Linked DNA regions of Homo sapiens. The protein of the gene in region 1 interacts with the protein of each later gene in a biochemical or structural test. Each region holds a gene or a part of one and is shown on either strand. Other genes may lie near its edges.

What was found. Proteins that work in one complex are often made in the same cells at the same time.
Region 2: the proteins of EIF3A (region 1) and EIF4B form a complex in vitro, tested with the Homo sapiens proteins (one study listed by BioGRID and IntAct).
Region 3: the proteins of EIF3A (region 1) and RNF139 form a complex in vitro, tested with the Homo sapiens proteins (one study listed by BioGRID).

The regions. Positions count from the first base shown.
Region 1 is NC_000010.11:119,070,805-119,077,839, reverse strand, and holds part of EIF3A (eukaryotic translation initiation factor 3 subunit A), read left to right. Parts: intron 1-3,902; coding exon 3,903-4,093; intron 4,094-4,262; coding exon 4,263-4,399; intron 4,400-4,786; coding exon 4,787-4,950; intron 4,951-6,754; coding exon 6,755-6,954; intron 6,955-7,035. UniProt on the Homo sapiens protein: RNA-binding component of the eukaryotic translation initiation factor 3 (eIF-3) complex, which is required for several steps in the initiation of protein synthesis.
Region 2 is NC_000012.12:53,009,421-53,016,455, forward strand, and holds part of EIF4B (eukaryotic translation initiation factor 4B), read left to right. Parts: intron 1-7,035. UniProt on the Homo sapiens protein: Required for the binding of mRNA to ribosomes. Functions in close association with EIF4-F and EIF4-A. Binds near the 5'-terminal cap of mRNA in presence of EIF-4F and ATP.
Region 3 is NC_000008.11:124,484,845-124,489,118, forward strand, and holds the end of RNF139 (E3 ubiquitin-protein ligase RNF139), read left to right. Parts: intron 1-986; coding exon 987-2,800; 3' UTR 2,801-3,749; downstream 3,750-4,274. Other genes in the region: deoxyribonuclease TATDN1, read right to left, coding at 3,750-3,852. UniProt on the Homo sapiens protein: E3-ubiquitin ligase; acts as a negative regulator of cell proliferation through mechanisms involving G2/M arrest and cell death.

The DNA of each region.
Region 1 (7,035 bases):
GGCTCATGCCTGTAATCCCAGCACTTTGGGAGGCCGAAGCGGGTGGATCACAAGGTCAGGAGATCAAGACCATCCTCACTAACACAGTGAAACCGTCTCTAGTAAAAATACAAAAATATTAGCCTGGTGTGGTGGCGGGCACCTGTAGTCCCAGCTACTCAGGAAGCTGAGGCAGGAGAATGGCATGAACCCAGGAGGTGGAGCTTGCAGTGAGCTGAGATTGCGCCACTGCACTCCAGCGTGGGTGACAGAGCGAGACTCCTTCTCCAAAAAAAAAAAAAAATTCGGAGGAACTAAATTCTTGTATATAAATTAGGACAAAGGCAGAAGACTCACTGTCATGGATTATGAAAAATCTGTTCCCATTCCAACTATTTATTTATTTATTTGAGACAGAATCTCTCTCTGTTGGCCAGGCTGGAGTGCAGTGGCACTATCTCGGCCCACTGCAACCTCCGCCTCCCAGGCTCAAGCGATTCTCCTGCCTCAGCCTCCCAAGTAGCTGGGATTACAGGTGTGTCCCACCATGCCCAGCTAATTTTTTAATTTTTTTCACCATATTTCCCAGGCTGATCTTGAACCCTTGGCCTCAAGTGATCTGCTCGCCTTAGCCTCCCAAAGTGCTGGGATTACAGGCGTGAGCCACCGCGCCTGGCTAAGGAATCAACTTCTAATTGGCTGTTCAGGAAGTGAAAAATGGTTTCAGTTCCATCTTTAAGCAAGCCCTTTTTAGATTAGGAGTTGGATACAATAGGTCATTTTAGTGCTGCTGCTGTGATTTTCTTAAAGTATAAATTCCATTAAACGCATTTACTCCCAAGTTTTTTGCTGATAAGAGACTGTTTTTGTTAGTTATGAAGAACGCCTAATGTACTGTTACATTTTCTTTTTTTTTTTTTTTTGAGACAGAGTCTCTCCCTCTATTGCCCAGGCTGGAGTGCAGTGACGCAATCTTGGCTCACTGCAACCTCCGCCTCCTGGGTTCAAGTGATTCTAAAGTCTCAGCCTCCCGAGTATTTGGGATTACAGGCATGCACCACCATGCCTGGCTAATTTTTGTGTTTTTAGTGGAGACAAGGTTTCACCATGTTGCCCAGGCTGATCTGGAACTCCTGACCGCAAGTGATGCCTTGGCCTCCCAGAGGGCTAGGATTATAGGTGTGAGCCAAGGCGCCTGGCTGTACTGTTACATTTTAGAAAATAACCTTACATGCACTATATAGGAGAAGACCAGGAGAAGACTGCAAGTTTTTTCCCTCCCACCCCCACCCCTGACAACAAGGAAAGGCTTATTTCAACAAAATATCTAGTTATATATTACATCTTTGTTTCATTTAGTAAGTTTTTTTTTTGATAGTAAGATGGAGTCAGCGAAAGATGGACTTTTTCATGCAGTGGTGAAGGGTTTTGTCATTATTTGCATGTGAAAAATGTGATTTCATATAAGGTATTGTACAAAGATTTATTTCAGTATGTTTTGTGATTTATCCTGTAGCAAACTTTTTTTTTTTTTTTTTGGAGACTTGTTGCCCAGGCTGGAGTACAGTGGCGCTATCTCGGCTCACCGCAACCTCCGCCTCCTGAATTCAAGTAATTGTCTTGCCTCAGCCTCCCAAGTAGCTAGGATTACGGGCGTGCATCACCATGGCCCAGCTAATTTTTTGTATTTTTAGTAGAGACGAGGTTTCACCGTGTTAGCCAGGATGGTCTCGATCTCCTGACCTCGTGATCCACCCGCCTCCCAAAGTGCTGTGATTATGGCGTGAGCTACTGCGCCCGGCCATTATCAGATAGCTCTTAAAAGAAAAAGTATTGGCTGGGTGCGGTGGCTCACGCCTGTATCCCCAGCACTTTGGGAGGCCGAGGTGGGCAGATCACGAGGTCAGGAGATTGAGACCATCCTGGCTAACACGGTGAAACCCCGCCTCTACTAAAAATACAAAAAAAAAAAAAAAAAAAATTAGCCAGGCGTGGTGGCGAGCTCCGTAGTCCCAGCGACTCAGGAGGCTGAGGCAGGAGAATGACGTGAACCCGGGAGGCGGAGCTTGCAGTGAGCTGAGATTGCACCACTGCACTCCAGCCTGAGTGACAGAGCAAGACTCTGTCCAAAAAAAAAAAAAAAAAAAAAGTCTTTTTCCAAGGAAAATAAACAATGATATTTTTAAAAAGGAGATATATATATATATATGTATATATATAGTGTTTTAAGCTCCCCCCCTTTTTTTTTTTAGTGTAGTGTTTTAGTTCCCCCAAATTATTTTTTAAATGTTCATTGGGAAGTTTGTGTGTGTGTGAAATTTGCAATTAATGAATGTTAAGATGAATTTAACCAGTTGACTTAGGTTAAATAACCTCTTTCTCCCCCAGTCTATTAAGTGTACAAAAGAAAATAAAAGATGAGGAAATTTAAGATAAATTTTAACCTTGGTCAGAAATAATGTAATGGCAAAGGTATTGCTTTTGACTGTATTTCAAAACAAACAATATGCATAAAACTTAAAATTGGAACTGGGTTTTGAAATGTTACCACATAGAATGCCTTCGGGCTCAGGGGATAATAAATTCAAAAGAATATAAGTTGTCTGGGCATGGTGACCCATGCCTGTAATCCCAGCACTTTGGGAGGCCAAGGCGGGTGGATCATGAGGTCAGGAGTTCGAGACCAGCCTGGCCAAGATGGTGATACCCTGTCTGTACTAAACATACAAAAATTAGCCGGGCCCTGTGGTGGGTGCCTGTAATCCCAGCTACTCAGGAGGCTGAGGCAGGAGAATCGGTTGCGGTGAGCTGAGATGACGCCAGTGTACTCCAGCCTGGGCGACACAGCGAGATTCCATGTCAAAAAAAAAAAAAAAGAAAAAAAATAAGTTATTTTGCTTTGTATTCCATTTTTTTCCCTTTTTTTTTTTTTTTTTTTTTTTGAGTTGGAGTTTCGTTCTTGTTGCCCGGGCCGGAGTGCAGTGGCGCCATCTCAGCTGACCGCAACCTCTGCCTCCCAGGTTCATGTAATTCCCCTGCCTCAGCCTCCGCAGGCATGCACCACTACGCCCTGCTAATTTTGTATTTTTAGTAGAGACTTGGTTTCTCCATTTTGGTTAGGCTGGTCTTGAACTCCCAACCTCAAGTGATCTGCCCTCCTCGTCCTCCCAAAGTGTTGGGATTACAGGCATAAGCCACCGCTCCCGGCCCCATTTTTCTATTTTTTTATTTAAAAAAAAAAAGAATTTTTTAGAGCAGTTTGAGATTTCCAGAGTGTTGCAAAGAGAGTGCATAGTTTCATTGACACCACACCCACTTTCTCCCATGTTGATTTTTATTGGTAACAACTAATGAACCAATACCGACACATTATTTATTTTATTTTTTTTTTTTGAGACACGGAATTTCGCTCTTGTCACCCAGGCTGGAGTGCAATGGTGCGATCTCGGCTCACTGCAACCTCCGCCTCCTGGGTTCAAGTGATTCTCCTGCCTCAGCCTCCTCAGTAGCTGGCACTACAGGCACATACCACCACGCCTGGCTAATTTTTGTATTTTTGGTAGGGATGGGTTTCACCGTATTGGCCAGGCTGGTCTCCAGCTCTAGACCTCAAGTGATTGGCCCACCTCGGCCTCTCAAATTGCTAGGATTACAGGCATGAGCCACTGCGCCCGGCCTGGAACTTTTAAATCACAGTGGAATACAGTGATTCAGTTTTACTTGTAGATCATATTTCAACACAGTACAGGTCTTTCTGTTGTTTTACTTTTGATAATTATGGCATAGCTTTAGAAGTCAAAAATAAATGTAACTTGGTAAAAAGTTGGTAATGAGTTGGGGAATTGAAATAGCTGTTTAAAAAGGTAAAGTTTAGACTCTTGTATAGTGTACATAACTAATTTTAATTCTTCTGAATTTTTCAGAATTTCTTGAGGTTGGCAAAAAGCAGCCTGCTCTGGATGTTCTTTATGATGTTATGAAAAGTAAAAAACATAGAACATGGCAAAAGATACACGAACCAATTATGTTGAAATACTTGGAACTTTGCGTGGATCTTCGCAAGAGCCACTTGGCAAAGGAGGGGTTATACCAGTATAAGAACATTTGTCAACAGGTACAAACGGAACTGGGTTGTATATTTTTAACAAGTGTTTTTAGTAATCTGCCGAAGAACTTACCTTTCGAAGTGAATATATTGTATTTCTCTTAAAAATTTGCCTTTAAAACATCTTATGGTTCAATGGAAAAATAAGTTCTGAAGAGTTTTTGTTTTTTTGGATTAGGTGAACATAAAATCTCTGGAGGATGTTGTTAGGGCATATTTGAAAATGGCAGAGGAAAAAACTGAAGCTGCTAAAGAAGAATCTCAGCAGATGGTCTTAGATATAGAGGATCTAGATAATATTCAAACTCCTGAGAGGTATGTGGGTTAGACCTCTAATAAATGCTTTGATAGTTAACTTGGTGTTTTCTTTTACATGGGTCTTCATTTCCTTTTGAAGTAGATGTTTATCAGAAAAAAATGCAAATCTTTGAAGTTTTAAATGCATAGTAACCAGTTAATTTATGTAGGTAATAAAAATTCATAGAAGTGGAAAATGACAGCCTTAAGATAGAGGGGCAAATACCAATTTAAATGAACATAATGCAGATTGGGAATTCAGGGAGTAGATAGTGACACCTTTGCAGTGTGTACATATTGTGGGAAGAATTTGCACTGTTTTCTGATGAACATTGTTTTGGTTTTTAATCACATGGCAAAGTAGGAAACTGTCTAAAATTGTTTTCAACATTTTTTTCTTTGTAGTGTTCTCCTAAGTGCTGTAAGTGGTGAAGACACTCAGGATCGTACTGACAGATTACTTTTAACTCCATGGGTTAAATTCCTGTGGGAGTCTTACAGGCAGTGTTTGGACCTTCTTAGAAACAATTCTAGAGTAGAGCGCCTGTACCATGATATTGCCCAGCAAGGTAAGATGAGAAGATCAAATCTGAGTGAAGTGCTTTGAAATTGACTGAGGAGTAAATTTTCTGAAAAGTACTTAAAATGAACTAGTTTTTATCCTTATTGAAATGTTGGCATTCACATGAGTATTAAATGACTGCGGCCGGATGTGGTGGCTCACACCTGTAATCCCAGCACTTTGGGAGGTCAAGGTGGGTGGATCACTTGAGGTCAGGAGTTCAAGAGCGGCCTGGCCAACATGGTGAAGCCCCTTCTCTACTAAAAATACAAAAAATTTAGCCGGGCGTGGTGGTGTATGCCTGTAATCCCAACTGTTTAGGAGGCTGAGGTGGCAGGATCGCTTGAACCCAGGAGGCGGAGGTTGCAGTGAGCCAGGATGGCACTGTTGCACTCCAGCCTTGGTAACAGCAAGACTCTGTCTCAAAACAAAACAAAACAAAACAAAACAAAACAAAACAAAACCAAAATGACTGAGTAAGGAATTTGTTTTACTCTTTAAAGGAGTTTTGTGTGAATTGTATTTTATTGATATCTGAAAGATCTTTTTTTTTCTTTTTACACAAACATCAGTAATAATGAAAGACATTTTAAAGTTATTTTGGAATTCTCTGTATAACTGAAAAAATAAACTTTTCCATTTTTTTTTTTTTTAGTGAACTTGAGTTCTCTACTTTTTTTTTTTTTTTTAATTTATTTTTAGTTTTTAAAAAAGAGCTGGGATCTTGCATTGTTGCTCAGGCTGGTCTCAGACTTCTGGACTCAAGTGATCCTCTTGCTTCAGCCTCCCAAAGTGCTGGGATTACAGCTCTGCCCAGCCTGAATTTTCACTTTCTTTCTTTTTTTCTTTCTTTTTTTTTTTTTTTTTTTTTTGAGACAGAGTCTTGCTCTGTGGCCCAGGCTGGAGTGCAGTGGCGCAATCTCGGCTCACTACAAGCTCCGCCTCCCAGGTTCACGCCATTCTTCTCCCTCAGTCTTCCCAACAGCTGGGACTACAGGCGCACGCTGCCATGCTCGGCTAATTTTTTGTATTTTTAGTAGAGATGGGGTTTCACCGTGTTAGCCAGGATGGTCTCAATCTCCTGACCTTGTGATCCACCCACCTCGGCCTCCCAAAGTGCTGGGATTACAGGCGTGAGCCATCGCGCCCAGCTGAATTTTCACTTTCATACAAGTAAATTTGGACTTTTTGATAGCTGTTGATACAAATATTAACTTGAAGTTAAACTGCATCTCTGTTTTAGGCCTGTTAAAATAGACATAACTATTTTTAAGGGGAAAGGAAATCTAAAAAATAATCTAATAGTGCATATGTGACGGTAAAAAAATTAACGTGTCCAGTTAAATGACAGAACAAGTAGTTCATCTGTAATCAGTTGAAATTAGGTTACTATAAGCCCTCAATTTGTATTATGTAGTTTTAATTAGTACAGAACCTTGTTTCTTACTATGTAAGTTAGATATCAAAGTTCATTATATTTCATACTAGATTTTTTTACTCCTAGGATTTAAAGTGGTGGGTCTTTGAAAGGTGACCCCTAGATCTAAATTCTAGTTTCCCATTTGTAAACTCTGCCAGCACCACATTTTAGTTGTAAGCAAGGACCAGTGATTATGTCTTTGGTTTTGTTAGGGCTCACTCAAAAAGGTAGTCTGGATGAAATAAGTTGATTCTCATTGCATCACAAAGACTAATGATGAGTTTGGTGAATCCTGTTAAAACAACTGATCTTAATGTGTGAAATAAAACCTATTCAAATATTTAAGTAGATAGTGGAAGGTACCTAATATATTTTACAATTATGCTTATAGCTTTCAAATTCTGCCTCCAATACACGCGTAAGGCTGAATTCCGTAAACTGTGTGACAATTTGAGAATGCACTTATCGCAGATTCAGCGCCACCATAACCAAAGTACGGCAATCAATCTTAATAATCCAGAGAGCCAGTCCATGCATTTGGAAACCAGACTTGTTCAGCTGGACAGTGCTATCAGCATGGAATTGTGGCAGGTATGTTGGAGCTATTAGCTTTTCTTCCTAGAAATAATAGTCTGTGTTACTTTTCTCCCCCCTTAATGAATAGCTTCATCT
Region 2 (7,035 bases), on another chromosome or scaffold:
GGAGGCAGAGGTTGCAGTGAATTGAGATTGCACCACTGCCCTCCGGCCTGGGCGACAGAGCGAGACTCCGTCTCAAAAAAAAAAAACAAAAACAAACTTTAAAATTGGAAATAACATATGTAAGCTCATGCACAGGCCTTTCATTTCCATAATGCTTCAAAATGCAGTCCTGTGTGACATCTTATTTGATTATTTTTATAGGGAGAAGATGCTCTGCAGTGGTTGTTTTCATACACTGCTGACTCTCACAGTGAAATGGTTTTAAGGGGTGCCATTATATATTGCTTACAGATTCCCTAGTGTCAAGTTCCATCCTCTATCATGTATATGTTATTCTGTGAGTAAGATACCCAGAAGGCCAAAATTAAAACTCTTTATGAAAGTTTAAATACAAATACAGAATAGTGTCAATTAAGATAAAGCAGTGTTTCTAAGTAATGTCATTGAAAAAAGAGGTATATTTCATCTCAAAACATTCTGGAATTCTCTTTTCGTGATGGTAGAGGAAATAACTGAACTTGAGTACAGTATTTTAAGTAATTATTTGTAATTAGGTTTGCCTTATGTACATTTATGAGCCAGTTTCTTAAATTTGTAGTAGATACTGCTATGGTCCTGATAGTGGGAAAGTACCAAATCAAGAAGTTTAACTTGAATTTGTGTACCTCCTGTCTCCCATTTTGTGTAATGGTTAGCATGGCATGCATTGGGCACTTATTTTGTTTGATTATGTATATGATCAAATTGAGTATCCCTGGAGGGATAAGGAAAAGGTAGTATGGCATCTTCTGTCAAAATGAAGTAATTGGGCACAGAGAGGTCATGTAACTGAACCCGTACGGGGGTCAAGATGGTGGAGCTTATGAGTTTTGACTCAGTCTTTACTATGCTAAACTTACCCAATCCCCAACTAAATCAAAAGGTGGCTTGCACTGGGATCTTTTTGACTTTACAATGGGTTTATCCGGATAGTAAATGCATTTTTTTACTTGAGAAGGGTTTATCCTGACAGTCTCATCATAAGTCAGGGAGCATCTATATAGTGCAGTAAAGGTGAAGGTGAAATATTGTATTACATTGCATGAAATGTCTTTTCATGGCTGGGCTGTAAACACCAATATAATTAGTCTAATTCTAGGCACTCTGGGTGGATCGATTGTGTTTATGCAATGTTGTTGGTTTAGGGAAACATTTGTTATTCATTATTTAAAGTAGCTTTTGTTTTGTTTGTTTTTGTTTTTGTTTTGAGACAGAGTCTCACTATGGCTCAGGCTGGAGTGCAGTGGCGTGGTCTCAGCTCACTGCAATCTCCACCTCCTGGGTTCAAGCGGTTCTAGAGATGGAGTTTCACCATGTTGGCCAGGCTGGTCTCGAGCTCCCGACCTCAGGTGATCTTCCCACCTTGGCCTCCCGGAGTACTGGGATTACAGGCATGAGCCACCACACCTGGCCTAAAGTAGCTTTTAATTATGGAGAATGTGGCAGAACTCACTTTTAGTAACAGCTTTATTCAATGTAATTTGTATACCATAAAATTTACACTTTTAAAGTATACAGTTTGGACCGTGTGCAGTGGCTCACTCCTGTAATCCCAGCACTTTGGGATGCCAAGGCAAGAGGATCACTTAAGCCCAGGAATTCAAGACCAGCCTAAGTAACATAGTGAGACCACGTCTCTACAAAAAAAATTTTAAAAATTAGCCAGGGGTGGTGGCATGTACCTGTGGTCCCAGCTACTTGGGAGGCTGCAGTGGGAGGATTGCTTAAGCCCTGGAGGTCAAGGCTGCAGTGAGCCATTATCTCACTACTGTACTCCAGCCTGGGTGACAGAGCAAGACCCTGTATGATTTGGTGGGGTTTAGTATATTCAGAGATGTTCAACCATCATTATTATCTAATTTCAGAACCTTTTTATCACCCCCAAAGAAAAGTCCTTTATATAGGACTAACAATTCCTTTTCATTTATCTTTTTATTTATTGAAGTGAAACATCACTTAGAACATGGTTCTCAGCTAAGGGACAGTCTTTTCATCCCAAACCCTCATCCCACCCCAGAGCATTTGGCAGTGTCCAGAGACGCTTTTGGTTGTCAGAGTGGAATGGGGATCGGGGATTACTATTGGCATCTAATGAGCAGAATCAGAGATAACTGCTAAAATCCCCCCATGACAAATTACCTAAGCTAAAATATCAGCAGTGCTGAGATAGAGAAACTCTGAGTTAAGAAGTAGGCTGTATTTATTTTAGTATCTATTATAACAAATCCTGTTTATTAAGAAAACCATGAATGTGTTGTCTCTTGTTTAACGGCTTCTGGACTTAGCAATATTTCCGTTTTTAAGATCTTTTATTAAACCTGTATGGGTATATAAAGAGCTGGAGGTGTGTTTTCCCCACTGTAGACCATGTATAAATAATTGGGACAGGTTTTGTTTTGTGAGGTGATTGATTTGTTAACTTTTTAACCAGTTCACATAAGATTTAGAGAAAATTAAAGAATTGGACCAGTTCATTGTTGAATTGCAAAGGATTGATAAACCTGGAGCATTAAACAGTGCTTTACTTATAAAGCAGAGGGAACACTGTTGAAATCTAAACATGTAATGGGCCTAGGTATTGAGGGAGCAAAGGGCATGGAGGATTTAGATAACATCTTTTCTCAGTTAACTGGAATGAAACGGAGTGGAACAAACACGGGCACCTACTTTAGGTTTATTGATTTTGCTTTCCAAGGGCTAATTCCTTTAAACCTGCTGCTTATATTTTGACTGAGTCAGTGCTGCTGCTACAGTTAAATAAGTTGAAGATCTTGTAAGGAATTTTAGCCTGTTTTTTTAAGACTCATCTAACAGGTGGGGCGCAGTAGCTCAGGCCTGTAATCCCAGCACTTTGGGATACAGAGGCGGGCAGATCACCTGGGGTTGGGAGTTGGAGACCAGCCTGACCAACATGGAGAAACCCCATCTCTATTAAAAATACAAAATTAGCCAGGTGTGGTGGTGCATGCCGGTAATCCTCGCTACTTGGGAGGCTGAGGCAGGAGAATCGCTTGAACCCGGGAGGCGGAGGTTTCGGTGAGCCGAGATTCCACCATTGCACTCCAGCCTAGGCAACAAGAGCAAAATTTCTGTCTCAAAAAAAAAGACTTATCCAACAGTAATTTCTTTTTTTTTTCCTTTTTTTTTTTTTCTTTTTTTTGTGGGGGACGGAGTCTCGCTTTGTAGCCCAGGCTGGAGTGCAGTGGCACGATCTCAGCTCACTGCAAGCTCCGCCTCCCGGGTTCACGCCATTCTCCTGCCTCAGCCTCCCGAGTAGCTAGGACCACAGGTGCCCGCCACCATGCCCGGCTAATTTTTTTGTATTTTTAGTAGAGACGGGGTTTCACCATGTTAGCCAGGATGGTCTCGATCTCCTGACCTCGTGATCCACCCGCCTCGGCCTCCCAAAGTGCTGGGATTACAGGCGTGAGCCACCACACCCAACAGTAATTTCTTAACCAGAGGGCCTGGGAGTGGGTGGCAATCAGAGGAGGGGGAGACTTGTGATTTGAAAAGACATTCTAAGATTTAAAAGTGCTTTTAATATTTTTTAGTCATGATATTTAATTTGTTTGGAAATTTCAAATAACGTTAAAGAAGAAACTTGTTTGTCAAAGGAGTCAAGGGGTGAGAGTTGAGAAACTGTGATCTACAAAGTTGATTTAAGCCAAATCGGACTAAAGGGCAGATTAATTCCACATTCTGCTGTTTTGGTAGAAGATACGTATATAGAACAAAGAGGAAAGGGATACCTTATTCAGATTGTTAATGTTCTTTTGTTGAACTTGACCTTATTGTACTGACCACCAGTTCTGTTTTTATCCTCCCAGTGGAAGGACAGGTTAATAATTGGATATTAGCTGATGGTACTAGATTAAGCCCCATGAGGGTAAGGATCTGTAGCTAGCATCATATTAATCCCAGACACTATTTTTGAATTAAATGATATGAAAAAGTCTAAAATAAGCCCACGCACTGTAAGTGGTTTACCTCATGTCTTACTCGTGTTCGCTTATTAAAATCTCCCATAGATCTTTGCATATGAGGCTGGGCACAGTGGCTCATGCCTGTAATCGCAGCATTTTGGGAGGCCGAGGTGGGTGGATCATTTGGGGTCAGGAGTTTGAGACCAGCCTGGCCAACATGGTGAAACCCCATCTCTACTAAAAATACAAAAATTAGCCAGGCTTGGTGGCACATGCCTGTAATCCCAGTTACTCAGGAGGCTGAGGCAGGAGAATCACTTGAACCTGGGAGGCAGAGGTTATAGTGAGCCAAGATGGCGCCACTGCACTCCAGCCTGGACAAGAGTGAGACTCCCTCTAAAAAAAAAAAAAAACCTTTGCATATGAGCTGCAGCAATAAAAGTGCTATGAGACCCAACCTCTCTGTAACCGTATTCTTTGAAAGCTGTGGAATAAGGCCAAGTGCAGTGGCTCACATCTAATCCCAGCACTTTGGAAGGCTGAGACGGGTGGACCACTTGAGGCCAGGAGTTGAAGACCAATCTGGGCAGTGTAGCAAGACCCCTGCCTCTACAAAAAATTTTAAAATTAGCTGGGCATGGTGGTGCATGCCTATAGTCCCAGCTACTCAAGAGGCTACAGTGGGAGAATTGCTTGAGCCCAAAAGGTCAAAGCTGCAGTGAGCCACGATTGCACCACTGCAAAAAAAGAAAAAAGAAAAAGCAGGCCGGGCGCGTTGGCTCACGTCTGTAATCCCAGCACTTTGGGAGGCTAATCACGAGGTCAGGAGATCAAGACCATCCTGGCTAACACTGTGAAACTAAAAAAAAAAAAAAAATTAGCCTGGCGTGGTGGCACGCGCCTGTAGTCCCAGCCACTTGGGAGGCTGAGGCAGGAGAAATTGCTTGAACCTGGGAGGCGGAGGTTGCAGTGAACTGAGATCGCGCCACTGCACTCCAGCCTGTATGACAAAGCGAGACTCCGTCTCAAAAAAAAAAAAAAAAGCGTAGGATGGATTCAAAATGTGATCTGGTTGATCATAAACAATACTTTTGGAGCTGGATTAATATTAAGTCACTTGAGAGATACAGAAAATACCATGTTCGTGGTCAACTTTGATTATTTTAGCCGGGTTCATCTGGTTTGCACATTGAGACCGTAATACTTCAGGTTCTAATTGTGTCCAGAAGGCTATGTGTTAACATTCATAGCAAACTGGTTACCTTTATTTCCTGAAAGTTAAATTTTGAAAGAAAGGGATACCAAGTGAGAAAGCAACCTTCAGTTAAACAAAGGGGTACATCAAGTTTGATATTCTTGGATTAAAAATCAGGTGACAATTGGAACATGGAGGAGAAATTCATGATTATAAAAACCATGAAGCCAATCTTTTTTACAACAAAGCTGCTTGTTTTTTTCTTAATCATGTAGTGGCTGCTATCAGGCCAGTTCTGGAACTTCACTGAGTCCCTCTGCTCTTCTGAATCAGCTCTTGATTGGTGGTGACTTCTCGGAAGTTCTGAGGACCACAAAGAAAGAGCAGTGTCAGTTCACTAAGTTGAGCCATTTGGAGATTACTAAATATTCCATAACTGTGGGAAACACTTAAATGTGTTGGTTATTAGGGTTTTCGTGTGTTTTCCTTTTAGCATTACATCCTCATATGCAGTGTTGTTATAGTAGAGGAGGACATTTTTTCTAGAGGGCAGAGAGATCTAGGGAATATGACTGTTAACATTTGAACACTTTCAAATAGCAGTACGTTTTACTGTGGTTTTGATAACCTGACATAGAATAAGCTGCTGAGATGCAAGGATACCTTGGTATATAGAAAGAGCCTTAGACTTCGTATGAAAAAAACTTAGGTTTTATCTTCAGCCTAGCCATCTAATGTCTCTGTAACTTTACAGACATCTGGTGTTTCACTTAACCTCTCTGAGACTTAGTTTCCTTTTCTGTAAATTGATAGTTGTGGCCAGGCACCATGGCTCATACCTGTAATCCCAGCATTTTGGGAGGCTGAGGCAGGAGGATCACTTGAGCCTGGGATCCTCCAGGATACTTGAGACCAGCCTGGGCAACATAGGGAATTAAAAAACTTTTTAAAAATCAGCTGGGCGTGGTAGTGTGCCTCTGTGGTCCCAGCTATTGAGGAGGCTGTGGGAGGATCACATGAGCATGGGAGGGTTGAGGCTTCAGATAGCCGTGGCCACACCACTGCACTACAGCCTGGACAACAGAGCAAGACCCTGTCTCAAAAAAAAAAAATGGGGCCGGGTGTGGCGGTTCACACCGTAATCCCAGCACTTTCGGAGGCCGAGGCAGGAGGATCACCTGAGGTTAGGAGTTCAAGACCAGCCTGGCCAACATGGTGAAACCCCGTCTCTACTAAAAACACAAAAAATTAGCTGGGCATGGTGGCGGGTGCCTGTAATCCCAAGTATTCGGGAGGCTGAGGCAGGAGAATTGCTTGAACCCAGGAGGCAGGGGTTGCAGTGAGCCGAGATGGCACCATTGCACTCCAGCCTGGACAACAAGAGCAAGACTCTGTCTCAAAAAAAAAAAAAAAAAGACAGTTGTGATTCCTTCCCTATATGGTTTGTTTACAAGTGTCAAAACAGTCTTCAAAACTGCCATACTGAATATGTTATGTGAGATACGAATTTTTATTGATCTTTTTTATCCAAAGAGCAGTGAAAGTAGTAACTGAATAGAAGTAGTTACAAAATTAAAGATCTCAAATGATAAGTGAATATAGTAGAAAATAAAAGGTTGCCCCCACACTCCAAACATACTCTCCAGGGTGTATCTCAAACACTCAGACCCTTTTCCGTACGTAAACATGTGTTTACACATAATAGGTATTCTGCAACTTTTAAATTTCTTATTTATGTCTGCATAGTACCCCTTCATGGAAATGCCATAATTTAACCATTTGAGGAGCGTCCATGTTATTTCTTTCTAAATAATGTTTTACAATATTGCATTGTACAACTCTGTAAATACCTGAGTATTGGTGAATAATCTTTCT
Region 3 (4,274 bases), on another chromosome or scaffold:
TAAGAAACAGATTCAGCATTATACAGGAAAAAGGGAACTTGGAAGATGTTTCTAAGTCCGAAGGAAACTAGGAGGAAAAAAAATGGAATTTTGGACCCTTTGGAGAATGCTCAGAGTTAAGGAGTAGGAAATAAGAGCTGGCATGAGTTCACAGTTTGAAGAAAAGGAGGAATTAAGTGGAAGTATAAAACTTGAACTTGATTTCCTAAAGAATCCTTTAAAAAAAAATCTAAAACTTGGCTGGGTGCGGTGGCTCACGCCTGTAATCCCAGCACTTTGGGAGGCAAGGCGGGCGGATCACTTGACGTCAGGAGTTAGAGACCAGTCTGGCCAACATGGTGAAACCCCGTCTCTACTAAAAATACAAAAATTAGCTGGGCATGGTGGCAGGTGCCTGTAATCCCAGTTACTTGGGAGGCTGGGGCAGGAGAATTGCTTGAGCCTGGGAGGCAGAATTTGCAGTGAGCTGAGATTGCACCAGTGCACTCCATCCTGGGCAACAGAGTGAGACTCTTGTCTCAGTCAGTCAATAATAAATGAATCTAAAACTTAATAGGAATAAATGTTTTCCATTTGGGTTATTTTTAACCCAATTTTTAAAATTAATTTTAATGATTATGAAATGATAAAAGACATATTCTTTTGAGTTTTAAAACTTGTTAAAATGTATGTACCACTACAAATTCATCTTGAAAATAATTTAGTAATTTGGTGCCTTGGACAGCTACAGTGTTACTTGAAATACTTTGGAAATTAGAAAGTAAGGAATGAAATTTTAAAGAATAATTTAGTATGTTTGGTCTGTTCTCCTGAACTCTGACTTTACAAAACCTTTATTACCCTTTAAGCCTTAGTTGTCTTGAGGCTTAATGTTCATAACTGAAAATATTCATATTTCCTAATTAAAGGAAGAATATCATAACTCTTAGTGGGGAAACATTCTTACAAATACTTCATTCAAATGACTTTTTCTTTCTTTCTTTTAGGTGTATTTGCATCCAGTATTGTTCTGATCTTGTCACAACGATCACTTTTCAAGTTTTACACGTACAGCTCAGCCTTTCTGTTAGCTGCAACTTCAGTGTTGGTGAATTATTATGCTTCTTTGCACATTGACTTCTATGGTGCCTACAACACGTCAGCTTTTGGAATTGAGCTGCTTCCTCGAAAAGGTCCCTCGCTGTGGATGGCACTTATCGTTCTACAGCTAACATTTGGAATTGGATACGTTACACTACTCCAGATTCATTCCATCTATTCACAATTAATTATTTTGGATCTCTTGGTTCCTGTAATAGGCTTAATCACAGAGCTACCATTACACATCAGAGAGACTTTACTGTTTACTTCTTCCTTGATTCTCACATTAAATACAGTGTTTGTCCTGGCAGTGAAACTGAAGTGGTTTTATTATTCCACACGATATGTTTATCTTTTGGTGAGGCACATGTATCGAATTTACGGATTACAGTTATTGATGGAGGACACATGGAAGAGGATTCGTTTCCCAGACATACTACGAGTCTTTTGGCTAACAAGAGTTACAGCTCAGGCTACAGTGTTAATGTACATCTTAAGGATGGCAAATGAAACTGATTCCTTCTTTATTTCTTGGGATGATTTTTGGGACCTCATTTGCAATCTTATAATTAGTGGGTGCGATTCTACACTAACTGTACTGGGCATGAGTGCTGTAATTTCCTCAGTAGCCCATTATTTGGGGCTTGGAATATTGGCCTTTATTGGATCAACTGAGGAAGATGACAGGCGTCTTGGCTTTGTTGCACCTGTTTTATTTTTTATTTTGGCTCTTCAGACTGGGTTAAGTGGGCTAAGACCAGAAGAGAGACTTATTCGCTTAAGTAGAAACATGTGCCTTTTATTAACTGCAGTCCTGCATTTTATCCATGGAATGACAGACCCTGTATTAATGTCTCTCAGTGCCTCTCATGTGTCATCTTTTCGTAGACATTTTCCTGTGCTGTTTGTCTCTGCTTGCCTGTTTATTCTTCCTGTCTTACTCAGTTATGTTCTTTGGCATCACTATGCACTAAATACATGGTTGTTTGCAGTTACAGCATTTTGTGTGGAACTGTGCTTAAAAGTAATTGTTTCTCTCACTGTTTATACGTTATTCATGATTGATGGCTACTATAATGTCCTCTGGGAAAAGCTTGACGATTATGTCTACTACGTTCGTTCAACAGGCAGTATTATTGAATTTATATTTGGAGTTGTAATGTTTGGAAATGGGGCTTACACTATGATGTTTGAGTCGGGAAGTAAAATTCGGGCTTTTATGATGTGCCTACATGCATATTTTAACATCTACTTACAAGCCAAAAATGGCTGGAAGACATTTATGAATCGTAGGACTGCTGTGAAGAAAATTAATTCACTTCCTGAAATAAAAGGGAGCCGCTTACAAGAAATAAATGATGTATGTGCAATCTGCTATCATGAGTTTACAACATCTGCTCGTATTACACCGTGTAATCATTATTTCCATGCACTTTGCCTTCGGAAATGGCTGTACATTCAAGATACTTGTCCAATGTGCCATCAGAAAGTATACATCGAAGATGATATCAAGGATAATTCAAATGTATCTAACAACAATGGATTTATTCCACCCAATGAAACTCCAGAGGAAGCTGTAAGAGAAGCTGCTGCTGAATCTGACAGGGAATTGAACGAAGATGACAGTACAGATTGTGATGATGATGTTCAAAGAGAAAGAAATGGAGTGATTCAGCACACAGGCGCAGCAGCTGAAGAATTTAATGATGATACTGACTGATGAAAATAGCATTTATTAATGATTGAGGTATTTGTTTAAAATTCAGTTCATCCAAAATGGAGTAATATCCTTCACCTTCAGTGTGTAACCAAGCACAAAAACAGTATCAATGTTGAATCTGTGAATGGTTTTCCGTTTACTGTGATGTGCTACTGTAAATATACCTCTTTAATTACTTCTGGTCTCTTTGGTGACCTGTTTAAATTTGTGTACATTATTGTACATAGAATAAAATGTTTTCACATTTTTATGACAAAATTTGAACAAATAGCTTTTTAATAGATGTAATGATCATATGGTGCGTCACCTGTGCCAAATATTCTTCAATGAAATTATATAATGTAACTTTGGACCTCAGTTTTTCTTTAGAAATGGGTGGGAGAATGAAAATGCAAATCAGGAAACCACATTAAAGTCAAGGAAATAAAATAATTTGACCAGAGGATAAAGGACATGAGAGAGTATTTTAAAACTAAAGAAAAAATTAGCTGCCAGAAGCAACTGAGGACCTTTTTTGAAACTTGAGTAGCAGTGTAATTGAGCTGAGTTTGAAAGTCCTGATTCAGAGAGAGACTGAGGGTTGACAAATAAACTGTATCAACTAAACTTTGATATAAACCAGAATGTGCTAAATGTTTTTTATGTAAAATTGTATATTTGTTAGCCATTCTGTGTCTGCAGTATTGTCATAAAATTGTCCTTTCATTCTTTTGAAGATATTACAAAACAAAAATAGTTTTTTTTAAATTGTTTTAAACTAAGATACTCAATGATATAAAAACATCCTGATCTGATTTTACGAGAAAAAGAAGGGGAATGGTGGGGAATGGTGTGTACCGATATATAGTATTTCTTTAGACAACTTGCAGATAATTTCTTTATTGAAACTATCAGGAAGTTTTACTATGAAATTTTACATACATGATGGAAAGTGGAAGACATATACCAATTATATTCCAGGAAAAAATACTTTAATAGTATTGTTATATAGTGTATTGGCTAATTCCAGTGGATCCTCATCTCTCACTGCTGACATTATCTCCAATATTTGACTAAAACAAAACAAAAACAAAAATGGTTAAATCTCCAAGTATACATTTAGTTCTAAAGCTATATAATATTTTTCCACACAAAGGAAAATATTGGCACACCTTTAATATAATAAAGCTTAACAGTTATTAAGTTTTTCAGCAATATCAATAGAAAAACTTACTGCCAGTAACTGGAAACAGATTTATGGACTGTCTTGCATATAACTAGAGCTAAGAACCAGGTTCAAGTAAATTATTAAAGCAGCCATCTGTATTATGTTCACCAATTATAGCATTAACTGAGTGGAAATGAAGAGTCCTTTTCAATTGTGAGTCATAGCATGTTCATTAGTGGGTCATGATGAGCATTTTAAACATTGACAAGTACATTGTACTCAATAAGGGTAAGTACTGTTCCATTTTTTGTTAGGTTTTATTATGTA